2 separate regions of the Homo sapiens genome follow, and region 2 is linked to region 1. Evidence: fine-mapped expression QTL. A gene starts in region 1. The other region holds a variant in brackets. All regions are shown on one strand. Distances are between the middles of the regions. Region 1 holds the start of GCA (grancalcin). Region 2 holds the start of LOC124906148 (small nucleolar RNA U13).

What was found. PIP is the estimated chance that this variant, and not a neighbour inherited with it, causes the effect.
Region 2: its variant is fine-mapped to the expression of GCA in whole blood (INTERVAL, PIP above 0.99).

What each region holds. Positions count from the first base shown.
Region 1 is chr2:162,340,512-162,350,619 of GRCh38, forward strand. It overlaps GCA (grancalcin), which reads left to right and starts at 3,621. Exons shown (of 8, transcript NM_012198.5): 1 at 3,621-3,764; 2 at 7,067-7,231. The coding sequence starts at 3,738. RefSeq lists enhancers at 3,178-3,407, 3,260-3,429 and silencers at 3,458-3,607, 3,848-3,927.
Region 2 is chr2:161,555,196-161,565,303 of GRCh38, forward strand. It overlaps LOC124906148 (small nucleolar RNA U13), which reads left to right and starts at 3,349; the gene lies at 3,349-3,451. The variant G/GT (reference allele first, on the strand shown) is at 4,310.

The DNA of each region.
Region 1 (10,108 bases):
TGTTTCTACACTAACCTCCTTCTGTCTGTTGTCAACAGCTGAAAGAGTGAGCCTTCCTAAATCGTATCATGTCCCACTTAGATTTCAAACTCTTCGGTGGCTCCGTATCACAACCAGAGTATAAAAGCAAGTACTTAAAATGGTCTGTGAAGCCCTGCATGATCTGCTCCAATGTCCCCGCTTCTGCAACCACTTCCACTACTCTCCCTCTTGCTCAATCTATTCCAGGCTCACTGGCCTCCTTGTTATTCTTCAAATAGGTCAGGCAGGGTTTTGCTTTAGGACCTTAACTCTAGTTCTTCATGGAAATGTCTTCCTACAGATACCTCCAGAATGTCTAACTCATTCATGACCTCTAAGTTTTTGCTCAAATCTTGCCTTTTCAATAAAGCTACCCAAGTACTCCATTTAGAGCTACAACCTACTCTGTCATCTCCCTACCCCTTAACCTTGACTTAGGTTTCCTTATTTTTCAATAGCATTTATCATCTTCTCACATGGTTTATAATTTACTTACTCATCATTTTTACTTACTATTGTCTGTTCTCCCTGCTAGAATGTAAGCTCCAAAAAAGCAAGGACATTCCTCCCCTCCTATTGATGTATGTTTTCCACATCTAAAATAGTGTTACATTATACATGCTCAATAAATAATTATTGAGTAAATGAATTGTTCTATCTAAATGAAATTTCTTAGTGATATAAAATAAACTCCATTAATGTTGGTTTCCATTAGCTGGTATGTCTTATTTATTTTATATATATATATATATATATATATATATATATGATTTATATGAGGCAAGTAGGCTCTGGGTTTGTGATTGAAATTTGCTGAGGAGCTGTGACTCTTTTCTCTCCCTCATTCATATAGTGGGAAAGAGAAAATGAGGTGGCAACAGATAGGAAAAAGAACTGCAGTTAATTTATTGTTTACATTTTACTGGTAAATGTGCTGGTTAATTGAATATCTAAACTTATGATAAGACCAATGCCACCAAGATTCAGAAGAAATTCCATAGTTAGACATAATCCTGTAAGCTTTATAGTCACCAGAAAGGATGTACCCTGTGTAAGAGAAGTAATTAAATTGGCTAATCTTGGTCAAAACAATGTGTTTCCTTGGCTATTTCTCTAGTTATATTTTCTACTGCCATTTAAAAACTTTTAAAGCCTTTTTTCTTTTATGGTGTAAACAATTTTATTATATTCTGAAATACAGCACTATGGTTGGGGATGGAGAGAAAAGGGGACATACAATGTTTAAGAAACCACATTCTGCAGCCATACTCTCAGATTTGCTAGTCACTATGCAACTGCATTTGTGGGTAGTGAAATACAATTATCCACCTTACTTTTCACATTTGTAAAGTGGGAATAATAACATATACCTGATGGAGTTGTTTTGAGAAATAACACTTCACAACACACAATGCCTAGTACGTCGTATTCACTCTATAACTATTTTTATAAAGTAAAGAAGGATTTTATTAAAAGAAAAATATTTAAAAAGCAAATTTTTTAAATAGACATGACATTTTCATAAAATGCTATTGTTCATACAGTATTAACTTGACTCATGGAGGCAAATTAACATTACTGTTATTTAAAAAAAACTCTATGGCCTTATTTGAATTTTTATACTAGAATATTTAAAATTTGAAACACTAGTTTTAGAGAGAGAGATGCTGTGTTGTTCAAAGTCCTCCTCTGCATCTTCATGGTAGGAACTTTCTTTGGTAGCCCTTTCTCTAAGTTAAGAGATATATTGGCAGGAACTATGAAGGATCTGATATTTTACCCTAGTTATAAGCAAACAAGTAGAGTGCCACAGTTTCATGGAAGTTGGCAGAATGTGTGAGATTCCTGAGTCTGAGACAAATAACTTTATTACTCAAAGCACAACAGGCACCATGAGCTTCATACTTCCATAGATTCCCCTCGTTCTGAAGTCCCACAAGGCGAAGAGGAGCTGCCAGATGGGTGTTGTACATGCACTGTGTTTGTTATGCAACTGGAAGAACTCCAAGCTTAGGAAAGTCCTAAGAAGGCTGCTAGCAAACGTACCCAAACTTTGCCCTGGCAGGAAATACTATCTTTGCAATTAAATGTGCAGAAAGGCAAGAAACCCATGGGGCCTTAACTCCCAACTGCACAAATGCAGCTGCATCAATAAGGCTATTTTGATGAAAACAAGATGCACAAAAATTTTGACCACAGAATCAGACTAACATTGTAAATGTAAACACTCAATCCTTCCTAAGCAGTTCTTTGAATATGTAGTTAATCCGTTGGAATAAAATTTTGCAATGGTTTGTTCTTTCTAGCGCTTTATCATTTGATACCTTCATAAGCCATGCATTTTTCCCTTTTGCCACGTAGGTTTTACCCTTCCCCTCTATTTATTTATGCCAATAATTTAACCTTAGTGGCTTAAGTATTTCTTACAGCATTGAAGGAACTTACAGACACTTTCCCAAGAGTAGCTAGGACATCGGCAATCTTCCTTTCTCTCTGCTGTTTCCTCTGAGAATTGTTTCACAAGGTCCAACATCCTCTTCTGTAGCATAGCTGAACAACAGATACTCAGCTCTGCAAGGCTGATTTCCTTTGTGAATAGTTAACATTTTTTTGATAGCCTTATTTTTAAGAAACATGTTAGCCCTTCTCTTGTTCTTCAGAGATAACTCAAAATAATATCATTTGGTTTTTTCATTTGTTCATAAGCCAAAGCTACAGCTGCCTTGTCCTTTTAAAGTCAGAGCTACAAAATTCATTTGAGTTCCAGAGATAAATCAGACTTGTCCATTGCTATTACTTAATAAGCCAAAGTAATTGAACATTTAACAAGAGTTTGCCCAAAGGCTGAGTCAGATTATATACAGGACACCGTCTATATTATCAGTGTATAAACAGCAAATAAGTTTTTAGTGTATGTTCACGTCCTGTGCAATATTTGGGACATACTTACACTAAAAAAGTTTATTTGGAAATCAACTTTAACTAGATATCCTGTTTATTTGCCAACATGCCACAATTCAGGTCACCATTTATCTACCAAACAGAATCAATAACCTGTTCGTCCAATGTGGCCTCAAGTGGGTTTTGGCGCAGAAGCACTCCTCCTGGACCACAGGTGTGGTCCTGGTTGCAAAGTTTTGATGTGACATCAACACTACACAAAAGTAAATGTAACTGCAAAATTTTGAAATTCACAGATGGGTCTTTGAAGTCCAGCTCAAAAGCGTGGAGGGCTGGTTAAAATAAGTCACAGACTTGCCGGTTTGGGGTTTCTAGAAAGAAAAGTAACTTGAGGAGTTGAAGGCTTGTAGAAGACCTTTCCACAGAGAGTGGGAATTCCGTTGCAGCAGCCAAGGCTTCTTCGGGATTTAGAAGGAGAGCGCGCGAGAACCTGAGGGAGCCAGTAAGAGTCGAGCAGGGACTGGAGGGCTCCCGATGGGGTGTAGCCAATCAGGGCAGAGATGGGTGGGGCTAGGCTGCGGGAAGGGGCGGACTGCAGCTGAGTTGGCTCCAAAGTGTGGGACTCAGCCAATCGGAACCGTGCAGGGCGGGGCTGGCCTGCGGAAGGGGGCGGGTTCGGAGGAGTGAACTGTGCGGTTAGTGCGCCTTTCAGCCTCACCTGCAGCTGCGCCTCCTTGCACCTGCGCCTGTGCTTTTTCTCCCAGCACTGCGGACGCGACTCGAGGGTGACGCTCGCTCCGCTCGTCCCGCTCGTCATGGCCTACCCGGGATACGGAGGAGGGGTGAGTCCCAGCCGCTTGGTCGTGTCCCTCTTCCTCGCGGGGTGTGGCGCCCCCGGGGGCGGTGCCAACGTGCGGGTCCGCCCTTGGCTCCTGCTCCCTGCGTCCGCGCCTGGTACTCGGCGGCGCCGGATTCCGGGGCTGTTGGGGGCCAGGGCCTGGGCGAGCATTGATCCTGGGCTGACTTGGAGCCGCAGGTTTTCTGGTCGTTGAGGACCCTCGAGGAGCGTCCTGGTGGAGCCGAGGGAGTAATGTGTGTTTGGAAATTTATTTCCTGGAATGGAGGAACAAGCCACCCTCTTCTTGTTCCAGTAATCGTTTGTGGTACTTCCCTCCCCCGCCCCCCACTCAGTGTTGCTAGAGATCCTCTTTTTGAATTTCCTGACCACTTCTTGTTCTTTAAGTTCCTTATGAATAAATTAAGGTGTACGGTAAATAACTCCTAATCTTTACTGTTATACGAAGGGCAATCTGTTCTAGACTCCCCCGCTCGCCCCCAGGCGGGGGGAAGTTACTCTTTGTTATAACTTTTATCCTGCATCACCTTTGGGAGTTGCAAGTTATAATCGTAGAGTCCTGGTGGCTAGCCCCTTCTTTTCAGAAAGGAGCCCAAACCTTTAGTATCGATGTCAGTGATCTACACGCTGTGTTAACAGAGTTAACAGTAGTTTGATCCATTGCGGTGTGGGTAGAATATAATATATTTTCTATTTGTTTTTTACCTAAAAAGAGAAATTGTGTTTTACTGATTTTAATATAGGACTTGACTTTGGGCTATGGTTGTGGTCTTCAAAAGAGTTACTCCTACCCCTTGGAGTTCATGGTGGTGGTGGTGGTGGTGGTGGTGGTGGTGGTGGTGGTGGTTGTGGTTGTGGTTGTTGTTGTTGTTTTAGGATATGAATTTCCAGGTCCTCAACTTCCACACATACTTGTTCCTAAAATTGATTTGCTTTCCTTAAGACTTGCCTCAATCCCCTCTGGCACCGTCCACTTTGTAATGCCTATGCCTCCTCAGTCCTTAAATTTAGGAAGGAAGTTTAAGGTACCTAAGGAAAGTAAAGCCCCTTCGAAGATTAATCAAGATAGCATAAACCTGTGGGTCTTTAAAAACGTCCCTAGCGTATACGTATTTTCATTTGGTTGAAGCTATCTGTTAGAAGTTTGTATATTTACTCCTCTTGGTATGCTCTGAATTCATATATGTATGGTAGAGTGAGGTGGCAAGAGTAATACATTTTCATTCAAATAATTTGGTGCTTCCTTACCCACTTTTGTCAGAGTGCTTGAATTTGATGGAGAGTTCCACGACACAATAAAGAGAACGTCTGTATGTGTTTTGAATATTTAAATCCCCTTTTCCATGAATTTAAAATAAACAACTCTTTTCAGCTGTTGTCATGCTCATTATTAATCGCCGGAAAGAGAAGTACCCTCAATAGCTGAAGCAATATATAGATTAGAGGCACTGATTTTAAAAAATGTAATTGAAATATTTTAAGATACATTGGATAAAATTTTGGGATAAAACTTACATGATTTCTTTAGTAGGAGAATATTAATAAGATAGTTGAGACGTTTATAAATCCTGTTAAAGGAAACCCATGCCTTATTAATGTTTCTTATATTCTTTTAACAAAATATAAAATGTCAGCTGCTAGACCTAATTGTTTTGATAGTATACTTTTATCTAATTAAGTGCATGATTTATCTCTGTAGGAGATGCATTTCCAATAGATTTTTACTTTCTTCTTTTAAGAATTGTTTATAAAAATTGTATTATTTTCTTTTTTTTACTAATTGTATACGAATAAAAATTATAACTCAATGTAAAGGACTTTTTTCTTTGTTTCTCACTTTGGTCACAGGAAATGAAACAATCTAAAACTTCGTTACATGTTTTTGTTTGTACATGTTGTATTATACAAGCTTCAGTGTTTTCAATAATAAAAAAACATTTTAAGCACAGAAAACTTAAACAGATTAGATTTTCACACAAGAAATAGCATACAAAATCAATTCAAAGATGAAGAATCTGTCCTTAGGAATAACTTTTAATCTGTTTTCCCTTCCCAATTTGCAGCATTAGCTTTCCCCAGTCCCATAATTTGAGAACCTGGTGGTCAGATTAATGATGGTTACCAATTCTTTACCACTCCCCTTATCGAAAGGCACAGACTATTTCTCCACTTTCTTCAATCTGGATTGGGCCTGTTTCACCTTCATCTGGTAGAATACAGTAGAAAAGACACCATGGCAGTTCCAGACTCAATATTTTAAGAGGACTGGCAGCTTCTCTTTCTCTCTCTTAGAAGCTGACTGCCAAGCTATGAAAAAGTGGAAGAGCCATGTGAAAGGGCCCATGTGGAGGAGAACTGGGGCCCCTGGCCAACAAGGTTCATCCCTAAACACGGTTTACATAAATTTATATTTCAAGTTGTCCTCTTGACAGTTTCAAATGAGTCAAAATTGATCATTATTATTATTACTACATAATGTGGGTAAGGAAAGGCTTAGACAATATTTTCATGTCCAAGCCTTTCATGTTGCTTTGCATGTTTTTGAATCTTTACTATTGCCATTTTGTTATGGCTTTAGTTAAAACTAGATCACATAATCTGTAACATCAGAGAATCCCACATATATAAACTGTAATAAGTCACAATAGGCTGAAAAGAAACAAGTGGGAGGCCAGCATACAGAACTCTATGTCATCCCTCAGGATACTACCAGAACCACAGCAGTTTCTTTAAACATTTTGCTTCCCGCCCCTTAAAAGATTTTTGAAAAACTATATACCCTTTTCCCATATTTTATATTGACATATAAAGTTTTTATTTTAAGTTTAAATAGTTGTAAAGAATACAATACCCAACATATTGTAAATGTTGACACTTAAAGTTTCATTGTATTTACACATATATTCTTCTAAGTATGTGTCTTGAGGTTTACTTCTTAGTTTTACTTTAGGTAAAATCTTGCATTGTTTTACTTTTTGTTTACTTCAGTGATGTTGGTAAACATTTTTTAAAATTGTACATGTTCCTCTTAGATTAAGTTCTTAGAGGCTAGTAACTTTCTTTTTTCTTTTATACTTCTTTTAATGCTGGGTAATATATGTTGATGAATTGAATTATGTCTTAATGTAGGACATCTAACATTTTGTAGTTAAAATTTTTGTGATAAGATTATAAGCTTTTGGTAACTGTTTACTTTTTGACGGACTTCTAATAATTTCTTTTAATCCAACTTTCATAGATAATAGGTAGTATTTATATTACTAACCTTCTCCCCTTTCACTATTATAGTTTGGAAATTTTAGCATTCAGGTGCCAGGAATGCAGATGGGACAGCCAGTGCCAGAAACAGGCCCAGCTATACTCCTCGATGGATACTCTGGGCCAGCATATTCAGACACTTATTCCTCAGCTGGTGACTCCGTGTATACTTACTTCAGTGCTGTTGCTGGACAGGTGAGATGCTAAATTTATTGCATAAATATGTCTTTAAAATTATTGTTTAAGAGAAATGTCAGCTATTTAGAGTATCATTTTAAATGTATATGAAATTTATATTTTATATGTATCTAGACTAATTTTTTTCCTGAGATCAGAGATGAGCATAGTCATAATTATTTCATTTTAAAAGTCTGTTGATGTGATGCTTGATACATTGTTCATTTGACTAAAAGAGGAAACATTGTTTTCCATAGTGCGGAAATCTGATTCTTTCTTACCTAGTATGCTTGCGTTACTGAAATTCTTCTACAAGGGGCTCCTCTTACTAGTCACTAAACACCCCACCAAAACTTAGATATATCTTCTTATGAGTTATAATTTTTCTGTCACTTAAATCTTTTTATTTCCTTCACTCTGTTTGACATTTAGGAGCATCATACTCTCCCTGAGTGATAGATAACACAAAGCTAAGTAGGTTTAGCCTGCACATTCTTTTATAGCATGCAAAAATGACTATTGGAAATTTTAGGAAAGTAGGAAGCACTTTAAAAAATTATAAGGAACAATATTTCTAACTTGGGCCTCACTCCCATTTTTTAAAAAAAACTCAGTTAAAACCTAAGTATGTCAAACAATATGATTGGAAATCACTTCAGAGTCTCGTAAATTTATTCAGGTTGAGAAATTACATTTTTTTCACAGGTGAAGTTATATCATTTATAGTAATTTTGATTTGATATGGCTGGTAAATTTTCCAGGTTATCAAAATAATCATGTCAGGATTTATTAATTAAAAATTAAAGGAAATAGTATGTTACGATGTGGTATGGTTTTAGGATGTTATTTGTTTCCAGTAAATTTGAGTGATTATTTAAAGGACTGACTTTATTATGACCAATAGGGACGTGTGAAACTGCCAGTTCAAGTACATGAATTCTGTGGGTGAATTGTTACTGATGATATGTGAATACTGTGGTCAACGGAAGCTTTTCTTTTACTCCTACATAACTGTAACACCATACCACAGTTTATTCTTTTCCAAGTGATTTTATATATATTTTTCATGTGAAATTTCAAGGAAAATTAAGCAAATAGGATATGTATTATACCCCTTTGTATCAGTTATTAGTTGTATTTGACAGAAGTATTGAGTAAATATTCAAGATCGGAAGGAATACAATATTATAAGATGCCAATGTCTTCCAAATTAATTGATAAATAATATAATATTATATGAGTCAAATTCCTAAAGGTTTCTTTTTCTTTTTTCTTTTTGGCACTTGCTGCAATGATTCTAAAGTCTGTCTTGTATACTATGTTGTTGAGAATAAATATTAAATTATAATATATCATATAAATGTATTATTAATAATTGTGATAGTGTGGTCCTAATGTAAAAACAAACATAATACTGAAGAGCCCAGAAGCTTACCTGTGAATTCAGTATATGGTAGAGGTAGCATTTCATATCAGTGGGGAAAGAATGATTCCTGAATTAACTATCCTGAAATAATTAACAGTTTATCTAAAAGTAAATGTAAATCTTCAGCCTGTACCATATAGTAGCATGAATTCCAGATATATTAAAGGATTGAAAAGAGGGTGTATTGATGTTTATCTCCTGTTGTTGAAATAAATGAGCTTGTCTTTTTTTTTTTGCTGCTGCTTCAGCATGTATTGCAGCACCTGCTATATTTGTGTTTTTGTCTACAAAACTTCTTAGAAGAGTGATGAACTAAGATAGTTGCATGTGTTAATGAAACATTTGGGAACATCTTTTTAAGATGTGTGTTTTTTTTTCTTGATATGTTTCATTCACTTGTTTAACAATTTGGGGGGAAAGTTGAAAGCTCTTCTGTGGTTATGGAATACAGTGGATTGGTGCATGGAGACTGGGGGCCAGAGAGGATTTGGAAAAAGAGATCTACATGAAAATCATCTTGAAGGAGTTGGGGCAATGTATCAAAGAGGAGATTTGTAAATTGTGGATGGTTCTGGGACAGGCTCGATGATAAAACAGATTAGGAAAAGGCAAAGAAACTGGCAGAATGGATGTTCTAATACCATACTAATGGGCAGAAACAGAAATTCACTCTAGAGTCTTAGCTGTAGTCCATATCTCTTTTCTTTTATAATGGTCAAGAAAGATTTATTGATGTAGGTAGAATTTTATAGAACTTTAATAACATTTTATTCATTCCCTTGAGTGTTCACTAGGTCTAATGTGCTTTTCTAGGATTAGACAATATACACAGAATTAATATACGTGGCAGACATTCTGTTTTGGCTACCCCAATTTCATTTAAAACCCCCTTTTACCTTTTATTATGTAATAGAGGCTGGGGAACTATAATAGTCACCATCCCAGATACCTTTGTAGCTATTAAAGGCAGCCATGTGCCGTAGGACTGACCATTGACATGTAGGTGCAGTATCTTTGGAAAATCTTTCTACCCCAAATGAAAAAAGCCTTACTGGGAGCAAGCCTTGGCTGTGGCTGTTTTTGCCCCTTCATTCTTCCTGCCTGGAAAGGGGACTTGAGGTATGGAGGTGCAGTAGCCATCTCGTGACCCTGAGACAACAGGCTTGAGATAAAGACCTATAGATAGGGAATGTGGAAAAATGTAGAGACTGATGACATGTCTAAGTTGCCATACAGCCCTGTTCTGCCTAGCCTCAGACCTATTGTATGAAACAATAAACCCCTATTGGTTTAAGCATCTTCAATAATATTTTCTCCTGTTTGCAGCTAAATGGTACCTTAACTGTTCTACTCATTATACCATTGCCATTTTAAAGGATTATACTGGGAATAAGTAGTATTATACTGAGAATAATTCTATTATCTCTGTTTGACTATATAATACATTCATCATATAAAATTACAACTTA
Region 2 (10,108 bases), 790 kb before region 1:
TTGCTATTTTCAAACTTTCCTATTCACCCCTATGAGATTAATCTTTTGAACACACTTTAAAAAAATCATTCTTGTTTTAAAAAGTTTTAATGGTTCCCATCATCTCTTCTTTTGAATGAGTTAAAACTAATATTAATTTTTTATTCTGGCCTGGTTCCAAAAGTTCTTTTAATCCTTGTACCTACTACTTTCTAATGTGAAATCCTTGCTCACTGTCTTTAAAATATGCTACTTCAACATGTTTGCTACACTATTTCATCTACATGGAATGCCCTTTCTCCACTTTTAGGTCTCAGGAAATTCTATCTACTTATTAAGGTGTACTTTTCAAGAACATACTGTTTTTATAAAGTTTTACTTGCCCATTCCTGCCGTGTACAAACTTACTTCTCTCAGCTCTGAATATTTAAAGTACTTATTTTTTATGTTAACTTTTACCATCATTTATTTTGCTGTCTTGTATTGTAATTATAAAAGATTGCCTGAGATAAAATGCTCCAGATTGGACAAACAGAACAAAAACCAAACCAAACCAAAAAGACCCCCAAACACACCCACTTTGATGGGAACAGTAGAAGCTACAACAACTGTTATTTCAAAATGGATGCACTCTGTCTTGCAAGAAGAGATAGAGATTTGAGCAATTCTAGGTGTACGTTCTTTATTTCGGGGAAGAAAATGGAATGGGTCCTTTAGTTGAAGTGGAACTCTTGCAACAATATACATTTTTATCCTGTAATAGTGCAGTGGCATAACCAGAAAAATATGTGATGATATTGCTATCTTGAGATAACAAGACCATTACATATGGTGAGTAGTATGGCTAAAAATCTTACTCTCTAAAACTCTGAGTATGTATCTCTTGAATTATTTAACAAGAACCTGCAAGGGGTGGAGCATTATGCTGTTGTCTAAAATTTATGCGTGTCTAGGAAATGATGTCTGTATCTTGTGAGCACCAGGGATATTCTTACATTTACCTAAATTTTTGTATGCAGGGTAGAGGGAAGCCTGCCTTACTTCCTCCCTCAAATGTTCAAGCCTGAATGGAACCTCTCTGGCACTGGTATTTCATGCAGTATCAGCTCAGCTTGAAACAATGAAAGTAGCATATCTGATCACAAGCAGTTGATCCCCAGACATGTTTATTGATGGCACTATGAAGGAAAACAGCATACTGACATACAATACAAAGAAACTTGGCAGACTTTATAGTGGCAATTCAGTTTTGGCATTTATATTGGTAAAAACAGATTACAAGGCTTAGTGTAACTCAAACCTTATTTAAGCTTGCAAAATGTCTGATTTGATCAGTTGGCATTCCACTGAGAGCAACACCTCTATCTCTAGGAATTCCTCTTAAGCAGTTTACATTCATGTAGTGCCTGTGCTTTGCTTTAAGTGTGTTATGTAATCGAATCATTTTTATTTTTTTCTGATTGACCCCATTCAAAAGATTCTACTGAGTCACCATGCCCATCAGCATAGTTTAAAAAAATTTAAATGAACAGTGACACTTAGTGGGTAGAAATATTCATTACAGTGCTCTTCCGTAAGAATCTCCATTAACACATCCCATGGTAATAAAGTAAATGATACCAAAATTTAGTCTTCTTGGCAAAGTAATATACAGTATTTGAAGTGTGTTGGTTTTGCAGCAGCTGTCATTCCATACCAATCCATTTAGTTAAAAAGCAAACAGGTGGCTCACACATATTGTTTTTACTACATAAATTTTTAAATTTTCTTCAGTCCTACTGAAATAAATGGGGCATTTTTGCTGTTGATTTCAGTTCACTAGAAAAAATATGTAACAATACAGTGGAGATATTATTAATAGCACTGTTCAAAGTGCATGCTTTCTTCTAAGCAGATATCTATTGACCCAAAATATGAACAAGTAACTTAAGTGAGACAAGTAAGTTACATGGATACTTGTGAGACTGAAACAAAACAAAACAAACAAACACAAGATTAATGTGTCCCAATTAATTCCTTTGTTTTGGTACTATGGCACACAAGAAGTAAAATTATAGTGAGGTTTTAAAAATATTTACTCCAAGATCAAGACTTTATTCCTTTAAGGTTTAGGTTAAGTTTTCCCTCAATTTTATTGCACTTATGGATTTATTTTTGACCTTTAAGGAAGGCTTTGTGACAATAATTAGTGTTTTATTTTCTTGCAAAATGAAAGCATGTTATCTTGCCTGAGGTTAATGTGTTTTTAAGTCTCTTGAGGTGCTGCGGTTGGAAAGCAATTTAGAATATTGTCTTCTGCCAGCTTCACATACAACAGAGAGATGAGTGGAAAATATCTGATTAGTGGGTGTGACAAAATATGGCAAGACAGTTATGGAAATATATGTAAACTATGTTGTTTGACTTACATATTGGTTTTTTAAGAACCAAAACAAATACAATGAAAAACATTTTTTGACAACTTAATTAGAGAGTGGGAAGAGGGAGGTGATACAGTAGTCTTTTACAAGTATAGCAAGAAGTCTCTTTCAAGTAAATTCAGTGTATAAAAAGCTGACTTTACAAAACAGATAAGTTATAGTGTGATTATGAGGTTTATGGAAGCATTTACCAAAGCCTGGAAGTAAATCATGTATCACTTAAAACATCCAAAACAATTATTTCGTTTAGATACTTTCCCAGTTGAGTGAATTGAGTGATTTAATAGCTTAATTCTCCACTCACTGGTTATATTGAACTCCCACTCCTTCTCTCAAATCCCCTCCCATTTGAATCCTCTCTCCCTGGTCAGTAGGGGATGATGCCTGTGGTCTCAGGGTAATATGGATTTACTCTTAACCCTTCATGTACTGTACTGTAATTGCCTGTAATTGTCATCTCTCACAGATGACAACCTCCTTGAGGATTGAGGTTGTATATCTTATTCACTGTCTAGCATGTAGCACAGTGCCCAGCATATAATAGGTGCTCATTAAATATTTAATGTTTGTAGGTGCCAGAATGTTGGAATAGAGCTAGAGGGATGAGGCAAAGTGAAATTCCTTTCTAGTCCCTTGGGGACAAGGAGAACCCCCCCTGCTTGTGGGGCTTTAATTTGTGTTTGCCCAGGTGGGATAGTTTCCAGACTATTGATGTTTCTTTTTGCTCTTGATAGCTTTGAGATATGGGTTTGGAGATCAGCCATCCTGTATAAAAGAAGCCATTCTGTTCCAGAGACCGTGTAGTTGGAATTCAGCTTCAGATGGTATTCAGCTTCAGATGGTATACAGATTCTTTAAATAATAATGCATTTAGACAGACTATGAAGGAGACTGTCTCTTCGTTTGAGAATGTGTAAAACAAAGTAATATGATAAAAAGAATGTTGTAGACCCTTTTGTAGTTCATGAGCATGATGATTGGGTGTTCACACACATGTGTGAAATGTGCCACCCTCAACCTTATTATGAGGTCAGCACATTACCCATCTGACATGAAAGAAAGGAAAAACCAAGAAAAGTATTGTATTGAGAAATAGGACATTAGGCCTTGTTTCACTACTAACTCTGTATTTAACCTTGACCTTATCATGTATCTCTTTTGTCTTAAATTTCTTTTAATTATTTTTGTTTTATTTATTTATTTTAAATTTTTTATAAATTTAGAGGGTACAACTGCAGATTTCTTACATGCATATATTGCATAGTGGTGAAGTCTGGGCTTTTAGTGTCCCCATCACCCAGACAGTGAACATTCTACCCAATAGGTAATTTTTCAGCCCTCATCCCTGCTCCCGGCCTCCCACCTTTTGTAGTCTGCAATGTCTGTTATTTTACTCTGTATGTCCATGTGTCCCCATTGTTTCGCTCTCACTTATAAGTGAGAACATGTGGTATTTAACTTTCTGTTTTTGAGTTATTTCAGTTAGGATTCTGGCCTCTAGTTGCATCCATGTTGCCAAAAAAGACATGATTTCCTTCTTTTTTATGGCTGAGTAGTGTTCATATATATATATATATATATATATATATATACACACACACACACACACACACACATACACCACATTTTCTTTATTCAGTCCTCCATTGATAGACACTTAGGATGATTCTGTATCTTTGCGATTGTGAATCATTCTGAAAGAAGTGCAGGTATCTTTTTGATATAATGAGTTCTTTCCATTGGATATATACCCAGTAATGGGATTGCTGGATTGAATTGTGATTCCATTTTCAGTTCTTTGAGAATTCTTCATACTGTTTCCCATAAAGGTTTTACTACCTTATAGTCCCACCAACAGTGTATAAGCATTCCCTTTTTTTTTTCTACAACCTTGCCAACATCTGTTTTGG[G/GT]TTTTTTTTTTTTTTTGACTTTTTTTAATAGTCATTCTGACTGGTATGAGATGGTAATTCATTGTGGTTTTTATTTGCATTTCTCTGATTAGTGATTTTAAGCACTTTTTCATATGTCTGTTGGCAACTTGTATGTCTTCTTTTGAAAAATATTTGTTCATGTCCTTTGCTCACTTTTTAGTAAAGTTATTTGGTTTTTTTCTTGTTGAGCTGTTTGAGTTTCTCATAGATTCTGGATATTAGCCCTTGTTGGATGCATAGTTTGCAAATATGTTTTCCAATTCTGTAGGTTTTGTGTTTATTCTGTTGATAGTTTCTTTTGCTGTGCAGAAGATTTTTGGTTTAATTAAGTCTCATTTGTCAATTTTTGTTTTTTACTTTGGATTTTGAAGACTTGATAACAAATTCTTTGAATAGGCCAATGTCCAGAAAAGTTTTTCCTAGGTTTTCCTGTAGGATTTTTATACTTACAGGTGATACATTTAGTTCCTTAATTTATCTTGAATTAATTTTTGTATATGGTAAGAAGTATGAGTCCAGTTTTATTCTTCTGCATATGACTATCCAATTTTCCCAGCATCATATATTGAAAAGGGTTTCCTTTCCTGAGTATGTGTATATATATATATATATTACTTTGTAGAAGATAAGTTGGTTGTAGGCTCATTGATTTATTTCTGGGTTCTCTATTCTGTTTCATTGACCTATGTGTCTATTTTTAGACCAGTACCATGCTGTTTTTGTTATTATGGCTGTGTAGTATTATTTGAAGTCAGGTACTATGATTTTTCCAGCTTTGTTCTTTTTGCTTAGGATTTGGCTATTTGGGCACTTTTTTGGTTTCATGTGAATTTTAGGATTGTTTTTTCTAATTCTGTGAAAAATAATGTTGGTAATTTGATAGAGATTTCATTGAATCTATAAATAACCTTGGGCGATGATATGGTTTGGCTCTGTGCCCCCACCCAAATTTCATCTTGGAGGTCTCATAATTCCCACATGTTGTGGGAGGGACCAGGTGGGAGATGATTGAATCATGGGGGTGGGTCTTTCCCATGCTGTTCTTGCGATGGTGAATGGGTCTCATGAAATCTGATGGTTTTAAAAACAGGAGTTTCTCTGCACAAGTTCTCTTTTTTGCCTGCTGCCCTCCACGTAAAATGTGACTTGCTCCTCCTTGCCTTCCGCCATAATTGTGAGGCCTCCTCAGCCATGTGGAACTGTAAGTCCAATTAACCTCTTTCTTTTGTAAATTGCCGAGTCTTGGGTATGTTTTTATCAGCAGCGTGAAAATGGACTAATATAGTAAATTGGTACTGGCAGTGGAGTGCTGCTGAAAAGATACCTGAAAATGTGGAAATGGCTTTGCAGCTGGGTAATAGGCAGAGGTTAGAACAGATTGGAGGGCTCAAAAGGAGGCAGAAAAATGTGGGAAAGTTTGGAACTTCCTAAGACAGGTTGAATGGCTTTGACAAAAATTCTGATAGTGATATGAACAATAAGGTCCAGGCTGAGGTAGTCTCAGATGGAGATGAGGAACTTGTTGGGAACTGGAGCAAAGGTAACTCTTGTTATGTTTTAGGAAACAGACTGGTGGCATTTTGTCCCTGTCCTAGAGATTTGTGGAACTTGGAACTTGAGAGAGATGGTTTAGAGTATCTGGCAGAAGAAATTTCTAAGCAGCAAAGCATTCAAAGGGTGACTTGGGTGCTGTTAAAGGCATTCAGTTTTATAAAGGAAGCAGAGCATAGAAGTTTGGAAAATTTGCAACCTGACAATGAGATAGAAAAGAAAATCCCATTTCTGAGGAGGAATCCAAGCCAGTTGCAGAAATTTGTATAAGTAACAAGGAACTGAATGTTAATTCCCAAGACAATGGGGAAAATGTCTCCAGGGCATGTCAGATGTCTTCATGGCAGCCCTTCCCATCAAAGGCCTGGAGGCCTAGGAGGAAAATGTGGTTTCTTGGGCCAAGCCCAGGGTCCCTGCACTGTGTGCAGCCTAGGGACTTGGTGCCCTATATCCTAGCTACTCCAGCCATGGCTGAAAGGGACAAATATAGAGCTCAGGCTGTAGCTTCAGAGGGTGCAAGCCTCAAGCCTTGGCAGCTTCCACATGATGTTAAGCCTGTGAATGCACAGAAGTCAAGAATTGGGGTTTGGGAACTTCCACCTAGATTTCAGAAAATGTATGGAAACTCCTGGATGCCCAGGCAGAAGTTTGCTCCTGGGGTGGGGTCCTCATGAAGAAACTCTGGTAGGGCAGTGCAGAAGGAAAACGTGGGGTGGGAGCCCCCATACAGAGTCCCTCCTGGGGCACTGCCTAGGGAGCCGTGAGAAGAGGGCCACTGTCCTCCAGACCCCAGAATCGTAGATCCACTGACAGCTTGCGCCATGTACCTGGAAAAGCCACAGACACTCAACGCCATCCCGTGAAGGCAACTGGGAGAGAGGCTGTACCCTGCAAAGCCACAGGGGTGAAACTGCCCAAGACTAGGGGAACCTACCTCTTGCATCAGCATGACCTGGATGTGAGGCACGGAATCAAGGGAGATCACTTTGGAGCTTTAAGATTTGACTGCCCCACTGGATTTCAAACTTGCATGGGCCCTGTAGCCCCTTAGTTTTGGCCAATTTCTCCCATTTGGAATGGCTGTATTTACCCAATGTGTGTACCCGTATTGTATCTAGGAAGTAACTAGCTTGCTTTACATTTTACAGACTCATAGGTGGACAGGATTTGTCTTGTCTAATGAGACTTTGGACTGTGGACTTTTGAGTTAATGCTGAAATGAGTTGAGACTTGGGGGACTGTTGGGAAGGCATGATTGGTTTTGAAATATGAAGATATGAGATTTGGGAAGGGGCAGGGATGGAATAGTATGGTTTGGCTCTGTGTCCCCACCCAAGTCTCATCTTGGAGATTCCATAATCCCCACATGTTGTGGGAGGGACCAGGTGGGAGTTGATTAAATCATGGGGTGGGTTTTTCCTGTGCTGTTCTCATGATAGTGAATGGTCTTATGAGACCTGATGGTTTTAAAAACGGGAGTTTCTCTGCACAGGCTCTCTCTTTTTTTTTTGCCTGCTGCCATCCACATAAGATGTGACTTGCTCCTCCTTGCCTTCTGCCATGATTGTGAGGCCTCCCCAGCCATGTGGAACGGTAAGTCTAATAAACCTCTTTCTTTTGTAAATTGCCCAGTTTCGGGTATGTCTTTATCAGCAGTGTGAAAAAAGACTAATACAGGCAGTATGTCATTTTAACAATATTGATTTTTCCAAATCATGACCAAGGGTTGGAAGCATGGTATGTTTTTCTGTTTGTGTCATCTATGACTTTTTATAACAGTAATTTGTTGTTTCCTTATAGGGATTTTTTACCTCCTTGATTAAATATATGCCTGGTATTTTATTTTATTTTTTATAGCATTGTAAGTGGAATTGCCTTCTTGATTTGGTCCTCAGCTAGATTATTATTGCTGTATAGAAACAGTACTGATTTTTGTATGTTAATTTTTTATCCTGAAACTACTGAATTCATTTATCAAATCTAAGAGTTTTTTGGTGGACTCTGTAGGGTTTTCTGGATATAAGATAATATCATTAGCAAACAGGGACAATTTAACTTCCTCTTTTCTAATTTGGATGCCCTTTATTTTTTTGCTCTTGCTTGATTGTGCTGGTGAGGACTTCCAGTGCTATGTTAAATAAAAGTAGTGAAAGTAGGCATACTTGTCTCATTCCAGTTCTTAGAGGGAATGCTTTCAAACTTTTCCTGTTAAGTATGTTGTTGGCTATAGGTTTGTCATATGTTGCCTTTATTATGTTGAAGTATGTTTTGTTCTATGCCTAGTTTGTTGAGGATTTTTATGATGAAAGGGCATTGAATTTTATCAATTGCTTTTTCCACTTTAATAGAGATGATCATATGGTTGTTGTTCTTAATTCTGTTTATGTAATGTATCACATTTATTGATTTGGGAATGTTGAACCATCTTTGCATTCCTGGTATAAATCACTCTTGATCATGGTGTATTATCTTTTTGATATGCCGTTGTATTCAACTTGCTTGTATTTTGTTGAAGATTTTTGAATCTATATTAATCAGGGATATGGGTCTGTACTTTTCTTTTTTTGTTGTGTCCTTGTCTGCTTTTGGTATCAGGGTGATCCTGGCCTTATGGAATGAGTGAGGGAGAATTCCCTTCTCTTCAATTTTTTGGCATAGTTTTGGGAGAATTCATCTTTGTTTTTCTTTGTATGTTTGGTAGAATTTGGCTGCAAATTTATCTGGTCCTGGGATTTCTTTTGGCAGTTTTTTAAAATGACTTTGAAATGCCACTTAATGTTTTTCTGGCCTGTAAGGTTTCTTCAGAAAAGTCCACTGTTAGTCTGATGAGAGTTGTTTTTTTTTTTTTTTTAATAGATGACTAGGTGCTCTTCTCTAGTCAGTTTAAAAATTCTTTGTTTCACTTTGACTTTAGACATTCTTAATATAATATGCTATGGGAAGTCCTTTTTGTAATGTATTTGCCTAGGGATGGCTGGACCTTCTCTATTTGGATGTCAACTTTCTTGATAGACTTGGAAATTTTTCACTGATTATTTTCTAAAGTAGGTTTTCTAAATTTGATCTCTCTGCTCCCTTGGGAATAATGATAATACATAAGTTTGGTCACTTTGTGTAGTCCCAGATGTCTCAAAGCCTTTTTTAATTCTTTTATTTAGTTTTTTCCTTATTTTTGTCTGACTGGAATATTTCAAAAGACCTGTTTTCAAATTTACAAGAAAAAAACAAACAACCCCATTAAAAAGTGGGCAAAGGACATGAACAGACACTTCTCAAGAGATGACATTCATGTGGCCAACAAATATATTTTAAAAAGCTCAACATCACTGATGATTAGAGAAATGCAAATCAAACCCACAATGAGATACCATCTCATGCCAGTCAGAATGGTGATTATTAAAAAGTCAAGAAAGCGCAGATGCTGGTGAGGCTGTGGAGAAAAAGGAACACTTTTTCACTGTTGGTGGGAATGTAAGTTATTGTGGAAGATCTAGAAGCAGAAATAACATTTGATCCAGCAATCCCAATACTGGATATATACCCAAAGGAATATAAATCATTCTATTATAAAGATAAATGCATGCATGTGCTCATTGCAGCACTATTCACAATGCAAATATATGGAATCAACCCACATGCTCATCAATAATAGACTAAACAAAGAAAATGTGGCACATATACACCATGGAATACTATGCAGCCATAAAAAAGAAATGAGATCATGTCCTCTGCAGGGATATGGCTGGAAGCCATTATCCTCAGCAAACTAATACAGGAACAGAAAATCAAATACCACATGTTCTCACTTATAAGTGGGAGCTGAATGATAACAACACATGGACACATGGGGAGGAACAACACACACTGAGGCCTCTCAGAGGGTAAGGGGTGGGAGGAGAGAGCATCAGGAAGAATAGCTAATGGATGCTGGGCTTAATACCTAGGTTATAGGTTGATCTGTGCAGCAAACCACCATGGCACACATTTACCTATGTAACAGACTGCACATCCTGCATTGGTACCCTGGAACGTAAAATAAAAATTGAAGGAAAGAAAAAGATTTGTTTTCAAGTTCTGAGATTTTTTTCTTCTGCTTGATCTAGTCTATTATTGAAGCTTTCAAATGTATTTTGTATTTTCTTCAATGAATTTTTTACATCCACAATATCTGCATTTTTTTAAAAGATATCTATTTCCTTGGTAAATTTCTCATCCATATTCTGAACT